Regions from separate parts of the Homo sapiens genome. Here region 1 is linked to region 2. The links come from fine-mapping of genetic effects on gene expression. Tissue or cell type: whole blood. Region 2 holds a variant in brackets; the other region holds the start of a gene. All regions are shown on one strand. Distances are from middle to middle.

Evidence for each region. PIP is the estimated chance that this variant, and not a neighbour inherited with it, causes the effect.
Region 1: it holds the start of SNHG16, and the variant in region 2 is fine-mapped to the expression of SNHG16 in whole blood (TOPMed, PIP 0.93).

Annotation. Positions count from the first base shown.
Region 1 is chr17:76,554,512-76,559,884 of GRCh38, reverse strand. It overlaps SNHG16 (small nucleolar RNA host gene 16), which reads right to left and starts at 2,121. Exons shown (of 3, transcript NR_038111.1): 1 at 2,028-2,121. It overlaps SNORD1C (small nucleolar RNA, C/D box 1C), which reads right to left and starts at 1,095; the gene lies at 1,016-1,095. RefSeq lists enhancers at 899-1,700, 2,041-2,300, 1,701-2,501, 2,991-3,090.
Region 2 is chr17:76,507,817-76,513,139 of GRCh38, reverse strand. No RefSeq gene overlaps it. Among named protein-coding and RNA genes, the nearest start is that of RHBDF2, 9.1 kb to the right of the region's middle. RefSeq lists an enhancer at 1-311 and a silencer at 2,694-2,904. The variant C/T (reference allele first, on the strand shown) is at 3,398.

The sequences.
Region 1 (5,373 bases), 47 kb before region 2:
CTCCCAAGTAGCTAGGATTACAGGTGCCCGCCACCACACCCAGCTAATTTTTGTATTTTTAGTAGAGACAAGGTTTCACCATGTTGGCCAGGCTGGTCTCGAACTCGAACTCCTGACCTCAGGTGATCCATCTGCTTCGGCCTCCCAAAGTGCTGGGATTACAGGCATGAGATAAATATCCAGGCCCAGCCAGGGTATTTATTAATAGTAGCATTCACCAGATGCCAGGAACACCATCGCTCCCCAGTTCAGAACTGCCAGTCTAACTCAGTAACTGCTTGTATAACTTTGGGCAAAAGAACTCTTTACGCCTCACTTTTACTTACTCAGCAGCAGAGTGGGGAAAAAAATTTACCTCATATGGGGTTGATATTAGAAATACTATTTATGGCCAGGCAAGGTGGCTCACGCCTGTAATCCCAGCACAGATCACCTTAAGTCGGGAGTTCAAGACCAGCCTGACCAACATGGAGAAACCCCGTCTCTACTAAAAACACAAAATTAGCTAGGCGTGGTGGTGCATGCCTGTAATCCCAGCTACTTGGGAGGCTGAGGCAGGAGACTAGCTTGAACCCAGGAGGCAGAGGTTGCGCTGAGCCAAGATCGCACCATCGCACTCCAGCCTGGGCAACAAGAGCAAAACTCTGTCTCAAAACAAACAAACAAAAAATGCTCTTTATGAGAGTGCTTGGCAAGGACCCTATCAAAAGGAATTCCATACTACTTCCATTATCTGGGCAATCGTAACCCTGGAAGACCAACACATCCCCAAAACTAACAAACCAATACTTAAAGAGGACCATAAGCATATTCAAGTCTATGAAAGTACTAAAAATCTCACCATTTACAGAAATTTCATCATGAAGATCCTTACACTTAACACCTTAAGGTGATGAGTTTTCACATGACTGTTTTCAAGGCCACAGCCACCACCTTTAATCTAAAAGAGAAGGATAACAGGCTTCATTCTAACAGAAACCACCTTAAGGTTTATTCTCCAGATTTGTATTAAACAGCTGAGCCTCAGCAAGTCAGACCTCCTCACAAAAGATACCATTTCAGACAGGGATAACTTTAAATCATCCTCAGCTCAGCCAATAACAAAGATTCCTAAATCCTAGCGATCCAAAATTCATTTGCCATGTCTCTTTCATCCCTGCATGCCCTAACGAGGATCCACGCTGGTTACAATGACACCTAGTGGCCCCAAATCACACGGGCAAAGACGCTACTCATTTTTATCATTAAAATAATTAGCATTCTGAATTTTGAGTAATTTCTTACCATAGCTGGCTTGTATGTCAACACGTATTCTCATACTTGAACTTCAGAATAAAGCAGGAGGTGAATGTATGTGATGGCACCAACTGTGCTTTCTCATTTCTAGTGACCACTCAGGCCCTGCCTGCACCCACTCTTACTCATGTTAAGGGCTCCATCTATTACTCTGATCCTTCAACCTGGAGCTCTGCTTTTCACCGTCTCTGCAGATGCCAAACAAAGAAAGGCCTCTGGGGGAGGAAAAAAGGCTCGTTGTTAAAACTACGGCTTTCCAGAAGTTTACAATCCTATTGACTCCTATCTGTAAAGCTAAATATGAACTACCGATTGGGGCCGTCCTCAAGACACTCCAAGCGGAATCACGTCTTCACACGTTAACACTCCTGATGCTGAATTAAGAACCACCATCGTCAGAGTCTGCCCGTGCGCGGGCACCGAAGACCCCTGGGCATGACGCTCAGCACACGCGCGGCGGAGGCGCACGGGGCTGCCCAGGTTGTTAGGCGCTCTCCCCCGCAGAAGCCGGCCCTATGACGCCGAGGACGGGCTTGAGCTCTCTCCCTTCACATAGTAACATTTTCTCAACGTTTGGAAAGCATTTTCTCATCCAGTACTTTTAACCCTCCTAACCACCCTATGAGGGAGAAACCGAGATTATCGTCACCACTTCGTCTCTGAGGAAGGGAAGCCAAGTATGTTAGTGTCGTGTCAAGGAAGACCCCGTTTTCCCACCCAGGCAGCCTTACCATCATCACTAAAGGCCTGAGACTGCTCGCCGTGCTCAACACCGACTGGAGTGGCCATGTCTTCCAGCCACGCGGCCGACCTCGAAAAGAACGCGAGACCGCCCCTGCGCGCAAGTCTTCTCGGCAATCTCTCCGGAACTCTCGCGATGTTGAGAAAGGGCTGGTGGGAAATGTAGTTCAAAACTACGGCGGCTGGGGGCTGGCCGCGTCCTCAGCGCGACCCTGGAGCTGGGGGTAAGATGGTGGCCGCCACCAGGGGCAGTGGAGGGTCCGGAGTGGGAAACCAGGCCTGTGAAGAACCACGGCTGTCAGAAAACGAAGCTGGAGGTTCACTTCTGCCAGAAAGTCATTGAGCTTCAACACAGTTTGTCCCTGGTCGAGACTGGGGAAGCACAGAAAGTTCGAGGGGGCAGGGACAGATGAGGAAACCGGGGCTTGGCCGAGTATCTTTGTTAATTGCTCTGCGGATTTTATTTGGGGGAGGATAGGGGCATTTGGGGTGGTTCGCTGGGTTAGTGAAGAGGAGAGATTCCGAGGGAATCGTTCAACCTCCTGCTCAGGTGTTTTTAAGTTTGGGGCGAGGCCGGTGAAGCCGAGGCGCGGGCGGCAAGGAGCGCTGGAGAGCGACGGGGCTCGGCCTCCGCGGCTGCCCAGGGGCCCGGGGCATTCCGAGAAGAGAAAAAAAGGCAAGTGTCACGAGCTGAATTACGAAAAGAACGGAGAATGATGTAACACCCACTGCTCTTCTGAGTGTTATTTTTCAGGCAAACACCTTGGCTTCATTTTTTTTTGTTTCTGGGTTTTTTTGGTTTGTTTTTGAGATAAGGTTTCACCCTGGCACGCAGGCTGGAGTGCAGTGGTGCAATCATAACTTATTGTAGCCTGGACCTCCCGGGCTCAAGTGATCCTCCCGCCTCAGCCTCCTGAGTGGCCGGGACGACAGGCGAGCGCCACCACGCCCAGCTGATTATTTTTATTTTGCAGAGATGAGGTCTCACTATGTTGCCCGGGTTGGTCTCAAACTCCTGGCCTCAAGCAGTCCTCCTGTTTTGGCCTCCCAAAGTGCTGGGATTACAAAGGTGAGCCACTGCGCCCGGTCTGGCTTCGTTTTTGAAATAAAAATAAGGCAAAAACGACATCAACAATCAGGGCCAGAATTTGCACCTATTTGAAAGCTAGTTTAAGTTTGCAAGACCGAGAGCCTTTTCTCCATTCCAGTCTCCCTGTTCTCATCCACCCATTAACAGTGATCTCTGTGGCCTTCGGTGTGGGTTATATTGTCCTGCAGATGGTAATATGTTGCAGATACTTATCTTCAAATTACCACATTTGCTTATGTTTACCTCCTTTCATTTGATTGTAAGCTCTTCAAGAGCAGAAGTCTCTTTTTATTATTATTATTATTTTTTTTTTTTTTTTTTTTTGAGATGGACTTTTGCTCTTGTTGCCCAGGCTGGAATGCAATGGCACGATCTCGGCTCACGGCAACCTCCGCCTCCCAAGCTCAAGTGATTCTCCTGCCTCAGCCTCCTGAGTAGCTGGGATTACAGGCATGCGCCACCACGCCCAGCTAATTTTGTATTTTTAGTAGAGATGGGGTTTCTCCATGTTAGGCTGTTCTCAAACTCCTGACCTCAGGTGATCCACCCGTCTCAGCCTCCCAAAGTGCTGGGATTACAGGCGTGAGCCACCACGCCCAGCCTCTTTTTATTTTTATTTTTTTCTTTTTAATTTCTTAACAGTGCAGGGTTTGGTATTTACCTGCTATGCTCACAGTAAGTCTTCAGCAAATAATCATTAATTCATTCAGCAGTAATTCTGGCCATTAGGTTTCTCTACCTTACCCTTGAAGACACGTTATTTTGTGTAATACTGAAAGGAAGAATGTGTTCTATCCCTGCAAACATAGTTCCTTTCATTTGAGACTTACAGTGGGAATTCTAAGTGTGGAATTTCCCAAAAGCTGCTAGCGGGCTGGTGACCTACTGTAGACAAGATAGTAATGATAGCTAATACTTCATAGCACTTACCAGGTGCCATTCCCTATACTGGTTTCTGTACATGTATGAACTCGTTTAATCCTCACAATGCGATGAAGTACTACTGTCAGAGGCATTGGAACCAGAAAACTCCATCTTGAATAGGAGCTGGGTGAAACGAGGCTGAAACCTACTGGGCTGCATTCCCGGACGGTTAAGGCATTCTAAGTCACAGGATGAGACAGGAGGTCGGCACAAGATACAGGCCATAAAGACCTTGCTGATAAAACAGTTTGCAGTAAATAAGCCCACCAAAACCAAAACCAAGATGGCGATGAGAGTGACCTCTGGTCGTCCTCACTGCTACACTCCCACCAGCGCCATGACAGTTTACAAATGCCATGGCAACATCAGGAAGTTACCCTATGTGGTCTAAAAATGGGAGGCGTAAATAATCCACCCCTTGTTTAGGATATAATCAAGAAATAACCATAAAAATGGGCAACCAGCAGCCCTCAGGGCTGCTCTGTGGAGTAGCCTTTTTTTTTTTTTTTTTTTTGAGACAGAGTCTCGCTCTGTCACCCAGGCTGCAGTGGTGCTGCTGTCTCGGCTCACTGCAGCCTCCACCTCCTGGGTTCAAGCAATTCTCCTGCTTCAGCCTCCCGAGTAGCTGGATTACAGGCGCACGCCACCACGCCCGGCTAATTTTTGTATTTTTAGTAGCAACAGGGTTTCACCATGTTGGCCAGGCTGGTCTCGAACTCCTGACCTCAAGTGATCTGCCTGCCTCAGCCTCCCAAAGTGCTAGGATTATAGGCTTGAGCCACCATGCCTGGCCAAGTAGCCATTCTTTTATTCCTTTACTTTTCTAATAAACTTGCTTTCACTTTAGTCTATAGACATCCCAAATTCCTTCTTGCTCAAGATCCAAGAACCCTCTTTTGGGGTCTGGATCAGGACTCCTCTCCGGTAACACTATCACTGTCCCCATTTTACGGATAAGGAAACAGAAGCACTGGGAAATTCGGTAACTTGCCCAAATTCACATAACCAGTAACTGGCAGGGTCAGGGTTTGCTCCCAGCCTGTAGAATCCATGCTTTTACCGCTAATGAATAAGGTGACCTTATGTATAAGGACTTTTGTTTTCGGGGAGGAAGGGAGAAGGAAGAAGATTTTCATGTGTTTGTAGGGGTGGTTGGGGACAAAATCAGAAATGAGGTTGAAAGGGGGAACAATGGGCACCTGCTCTGCCATTTGAGCCACTTCGTGGCAGGAAGAGTGAGGATGGGAGGCTGCAGAGCTGATGTGTGGAAGATGGAGGCTCTGGGCTCTAGCAGGGCTGTATTGGGCCTGGATGCCACCCAG
Region 2 (5,323 bases):
GCAGGGCCTGCCAGAGGAAGCATCCATCCCCAAGGACGAAGAGCATAGTAAGCAAACATGTGAACAGCGGGGTGAGTTCAGATGAGCAAGGACGGGGTTCCTGAGGTAGGGAGGGTCTCTTCTAGACGGGCCTCATCTGTTCCCCTCCATCACCCTCAGAGATGCACCTCATGACCCCATCTTACAGCCAAAGAGCTGGGCTCATCAACAAGCCGCCCACGGCCACGGGGCAAGGCAGGAGCCACAGGCTGACCCCAAAGTCCCAGCCTCTCCCACAGTCCCCACCATTAGAGAGAAGCAGAGAGGACACAGCAGGACAGGAAGACATCGCCCTGGCCCGGGCTCCCCACGGCCTCCCCGGTGGTCTCCAAGGTCACCTCCTACAGTCCAGGCTCCATCCAGCAAAGCTCTCTTCAGGAAAATTGACCTCGTCGGCCCCTGCTCAAACCTTCCGATGGCCCCACACCAGCAGCAGCTAACGGGGAAGGATGATGAGGGTGGCGAGGGCAGCTGGGATCTGAGGCGGGAAGAGCACAGGGGTGTGATCTAGGGGGACCAGTGACCAGAGACTTTTGCTCCCAGCTTCTTACCCTGGAGTGACATCTGGGCCAAGGGAGAAAGGGAGGGCCCAGGCGTCGGTGGCAGCTCGGGAGGTGAGATGGGACCCAGCCTCTGCCTCTCCTACCCTCTGGGGGCCTTGGGAGAGAAGAGCTCCTTGGAAGAGCCTCTTCCATTTCTCCTTGGTGACCGTGGAGCCAGCAAAGCAGTGTCTGAGGCTGCTTGGTTTTAGATTGGTCCCAAGAGACCCAGACGGGCTCCAATCTCCCTGGACTTGCTGTGCAACCACGAGCCAGCCTCTCACCCTCTCTGTGAAAGCTTGGTTACCTGCTGGCTTTGGGTTACCTGCTGTTCTTTCTGCTGAACCCAGTGGCCCCATGCACGACTCCCTAGGAGTTAGGATGAGGGTCCCAGGGAACAGAAAGCCCAGGGGGGCCAGCAGCCCCCACCCAGGCTGTTGCCTAGGCTGGTCTTGAACTCCGGGGTTCAAGTAATCCTCCTGCCTCAGCTTTCCGAGTAGCTGGGATGACAGTGTCATTTATTTTAAAATACAAATTTAAATTGTCAGCATGAATTTTACTATCCATCTTTATATTGTGCAATGCCAGTTTTTGCACACAAATAGAAGAGCATTGAATTCATAATGCAGAATCAGCAGAATTACACAATTGGTATTTCATAGTTCCTACATGCGTCTGTGGTGTGTGTTGTTCTTACCACAGCAGTGGAAACACTGCACAAAACTAACTCACCTGTTTTTATTTCACTTTTGTTTTTGTTTTTGTTTTTGAGACGGAGTCTCACTCTATCGCCTAGGCTGGAGTGCAGTGACACAATCTCGGCTCACCGTAACCTCCACCTCCCGAGTTCAAGCGATTCTCCTGCCTGAGCCTCCCGAGTAGCTGGGGCCACAGGTGCCCACCACCACACCTGGCTAGTTTTTGTATTTTTAGTGGAGACAGGGTATGGCCATGTTGGCCAGGCTGGTCTCCAACTCCTGACCTCAGATGATCTGCCCACCTTGGCCTCCCAAAGTGCTGGGATTACAGGCATGAGCCACCGCACCCCACCTTTATTTCACTTCTTGATTCTCCCAACACTCCGGGGAAGCCAGTGGCTTCCTTAACTCACTTACTTTGTATTCACATTGAATCTTGCTAGACTCCCACCCAACATGGATCCGCCAGACCACTGTGCCATGGACATGGAGAACGTTGTATGCGAGTCCAGTGGATGTCAGCTGTGGATAGGGTGCATGCTCCACTGTCCAGCTGGACTTCACTATAAGACACAAGTTCAAAGAAAAAATGATTACGCCTTCCAATGTGGGGACAGCAGAGCGTTAAACCAAGCACAGAGGCTTCTGAGCCCAGAGTCCTGTGCTACTGCCCAGCTGACACTCCTGTGTAGCGTCCCTGTCTCTGGACAACTGCCAGTGGGGAAAGAAAGCCTCAATCCAACAGCCAGACGGACATTGAATCCTGTCACCGAGGGAGTGAGCTTCAAAGTGGATTGTCCCCCAGTCAAGTCTCGAGATGACTGTAGCTTCTCGTTGACACCCTATGAGAGACCCTGAGCCAAAGGAACCAGCTAAGCCACGCCCAGATTCCTGGACCCACAGGAACTGAGTGATAATAAACGTGTGCTGTTTCAAGCAGCTAAGTTTTGGGATAAATTGTTTTGCAGCCAGAAATACCTAATACAGCTGGCATTCTTCTGTAAAGCAAAGCATTCCTTCCTCAAACCGGACAACTATTTGGCTGCTTTGAAATACAGTTTCTACTGGAAAGGCAGGATAGATGCTTGATTTTTTTGCCTCTCTGGGCCTGATACACACACACACACACACACACACACACACACACACACACATATATATATATACACACACACATATATACACATATATATATATACACATATATATATACACACATATATATACACACATATATATACACATATATATATATATATTTTTAAAGAGGTAGGATCTTGCTCTCTGGCTTGGGCTAGAATGCAGTGGCACAATCATGGCTCGCTGCAGCCTCAAACTCCTGGGCTCAAGCGATCCTCCTGCCTCAGCCTCCTGAGTAGCTTAGGACAACGGGTGCATGCCGCCACCTTCGGCTAATTTATTTTTCTTTCTTTCTTTCTTTCTTTTTTAGAAACTGAGTCTTGCTATGTTGCCCAGGCTGGTCTCAAACTCCTGAGCACAAGTGATCCTCCCACCTCAGCCTCCCTAAGTGCTGAGATTACCTGCCACTGGGCCTGGCCAAGAGTTTGGTTGAATAAATGCTTTGGTGGGGTCCCAAGAGTTTCTCTGGATTTCCCCAGTTTGAGTGTCTAATGAACAAATGACTTTTTTTTTTTTTTTTTTTTTAGACGGAGTCTCCCTCTGTCACCCAGGCTGGAGTGCAGTGGCGCAATCTTGGCTCACTGCAAGCTCCGCCTCCTGGGTTCACGCCATTCTCCTGCCTCAGGCTCCTGAGTAGCTGGGACTACAGGCACCCGCCACCACGCCCAGCTAATTTTTTTGTATTTTTAGTAGAGGCGGGGTTTCACCATGTTAGCCAGGAGGGTCTTGATCTCCTGACCTCGTGATCCACCCGCCTCGGAATCCCAAAGTGCTGGGATTACAGGCGTGAGTCACAGCACCCGGCCAATCGTTTTTCTTTCTGATGTTCAAATTGTTACAACTTGGCCAGTAGGAGTCCCTTCCAGCTGGCTCCTGTGTCCTTTTGACATGGCCCCATTAATCTTTTAAAGCTTCCTTGCTTTCTGCTGCGAACAACATGTGCCAGGCTCCTCATGCTCTTGCCCGGCCCTGGCCCTGGCC[C/T]TGGCCCTGGAGCCAGCCACTTCCCCAGGGTTCCTTGAGTGGCACCTGCCATTCAGACATGGAGATCTGGTTGCTAGGGATCATCACAGATTTGATTTACATCTCCCAAATTACTAGTGAGGTTGGATATCTTCTATATTCATTGACCATTTTTACTTATTCTTCTGTGAATTGTTCTTATCCTTTCTACCAAATTTCTATTAGATTTTTTTGTAATTTTTTTTTTTTTTGAGACGGAGTTTCGCTCTTATTGCCCAGGCTAAATGCAATGGCATGATCTCGGCTCACTGCAACCTCTGCCTCCTGGGTTCAAGCAATTCTCCTGCCTCAGCCTCCTGAGTAGCTGGGATTACAGGCACCCACCACCACACTCGGCTATTTTTTTTTTGTATTTTTAGTAGAACAGGATTTCACCATGTTGGCTAGGCTGGTCTTGAACTCCTGACCTCAGGTGATCCACCTGTCTCGGCCTCCCAAAGTGCTGGGATTATAGGCGTGAGCCACCACACCCGGCCTTATTTTGTAATTTTTTTAATTTTATTTTATTTTTTGAGACACGGTCTTGCTTAGTAGCCCAGGCTGGAATGCAGTGGCTCGATCTCAGCTCAATGCCACCTCCCCCTTCCTAATCCTCCCTCTCCCAATCCTCCCTCTCCCTGGTCCCTTTATTCTGGACTCAGGGCTGATGGCTCCAGGGCTCTGTCCTTGCCCCTCTTTTCTTCCCACACTCTTTTCTCAGTGAGCTCATCCAATCCCAAATTTAAATCCCAGCCCTGACATCTCTATCCTGATTCAGGCTGGAGCCTCCAGCTGCTTCCTGGACCCCTCACGCTTCGTGTGGACGAAGCGGAACCCCTGCCAAAGCCTCCTCTTCCCTGGCTATTTCCCCTCGAAAGTGGAGGCTCTGTTTGCCAATTTAAATAGGCAAGAAGCCCTGGAGTCCTCCTCAACTGTCCTCTCTTTCACCCCTCACATCCCATCCATCAGTAAATCACGTTAAACAGGGCGCGATGGCTCGAGCTTGTATTCCCAGCTACTAGAGAGGTGGAGGCAGGAGGATTGTTTAAGCCCAGGAGTTTGAGGCCAGCCTGGGCAACATAGTGAGACCCCATCACTATTACTTTTTTTAAAAGAGACTAGGGCTGGGCACGGTGGCTCACGCCTGTAATCCCAGCACTTTAGGAGGCTGAGGAAGGCGGATCACGAGGTCAGGAGATAGAGACCATCCTGGCTAACACAATGAAATCCCGTCTCTACTAAAAATACAAAAAATTAGCCGGGCGTGGTGGTGGGTACCTGTAGCCCCAGATACTCAGGAAGCTGAGGCAGGAGAATGGTGTGAACTGGGGAGGCAGAGCTTGCAGTGAACCGAGATCGTGCCATTGCACTCCAGCCTGGGCGACAGAGCAAGACTCTGTCTCAAAAAAAAAAAAAAAAAAAAAAAGACTAAATGAGGTCCTGTTTCTCCTCTCAAATCTCTCCATGAGAGAAGAAGGAGGTTGTGTACATGAGCGTGGACACCACAGAGGAGGGAGCTTGTCCAGAAGGGGCGTCAAGGAAAGTTCTGGAAAAGAGGTGCAGAGCAGCTCAAGGCTCCGTGAGGAAGGGAGACCATGTCAGCGGTGGAGACCCTGGAGGCAAGTGAGCAGAGACTGGGAGCTACAGAAAGCCAAATCTGTGATGGAGAACATACCAGGTAAGACCAGGGAAGTATGTTGGCACCAGGTTGTGGGGCTCTCGATGGCTGAGGAGCTCAGACTGTCTTTGGGAGGTGACCTAGAGCCACTGGAGATCCTGGAACAGGAGCAGTGGTGGCCACAGAGCTGGCAGCCTGTGCAGGGTGGACTAGGGAAGGCATGGAGGCCACCCCGGGCTTACGCCTGAAGCAACCAGGGCAGCGGAAGAAACGGAAGGAGATGTGTGGAT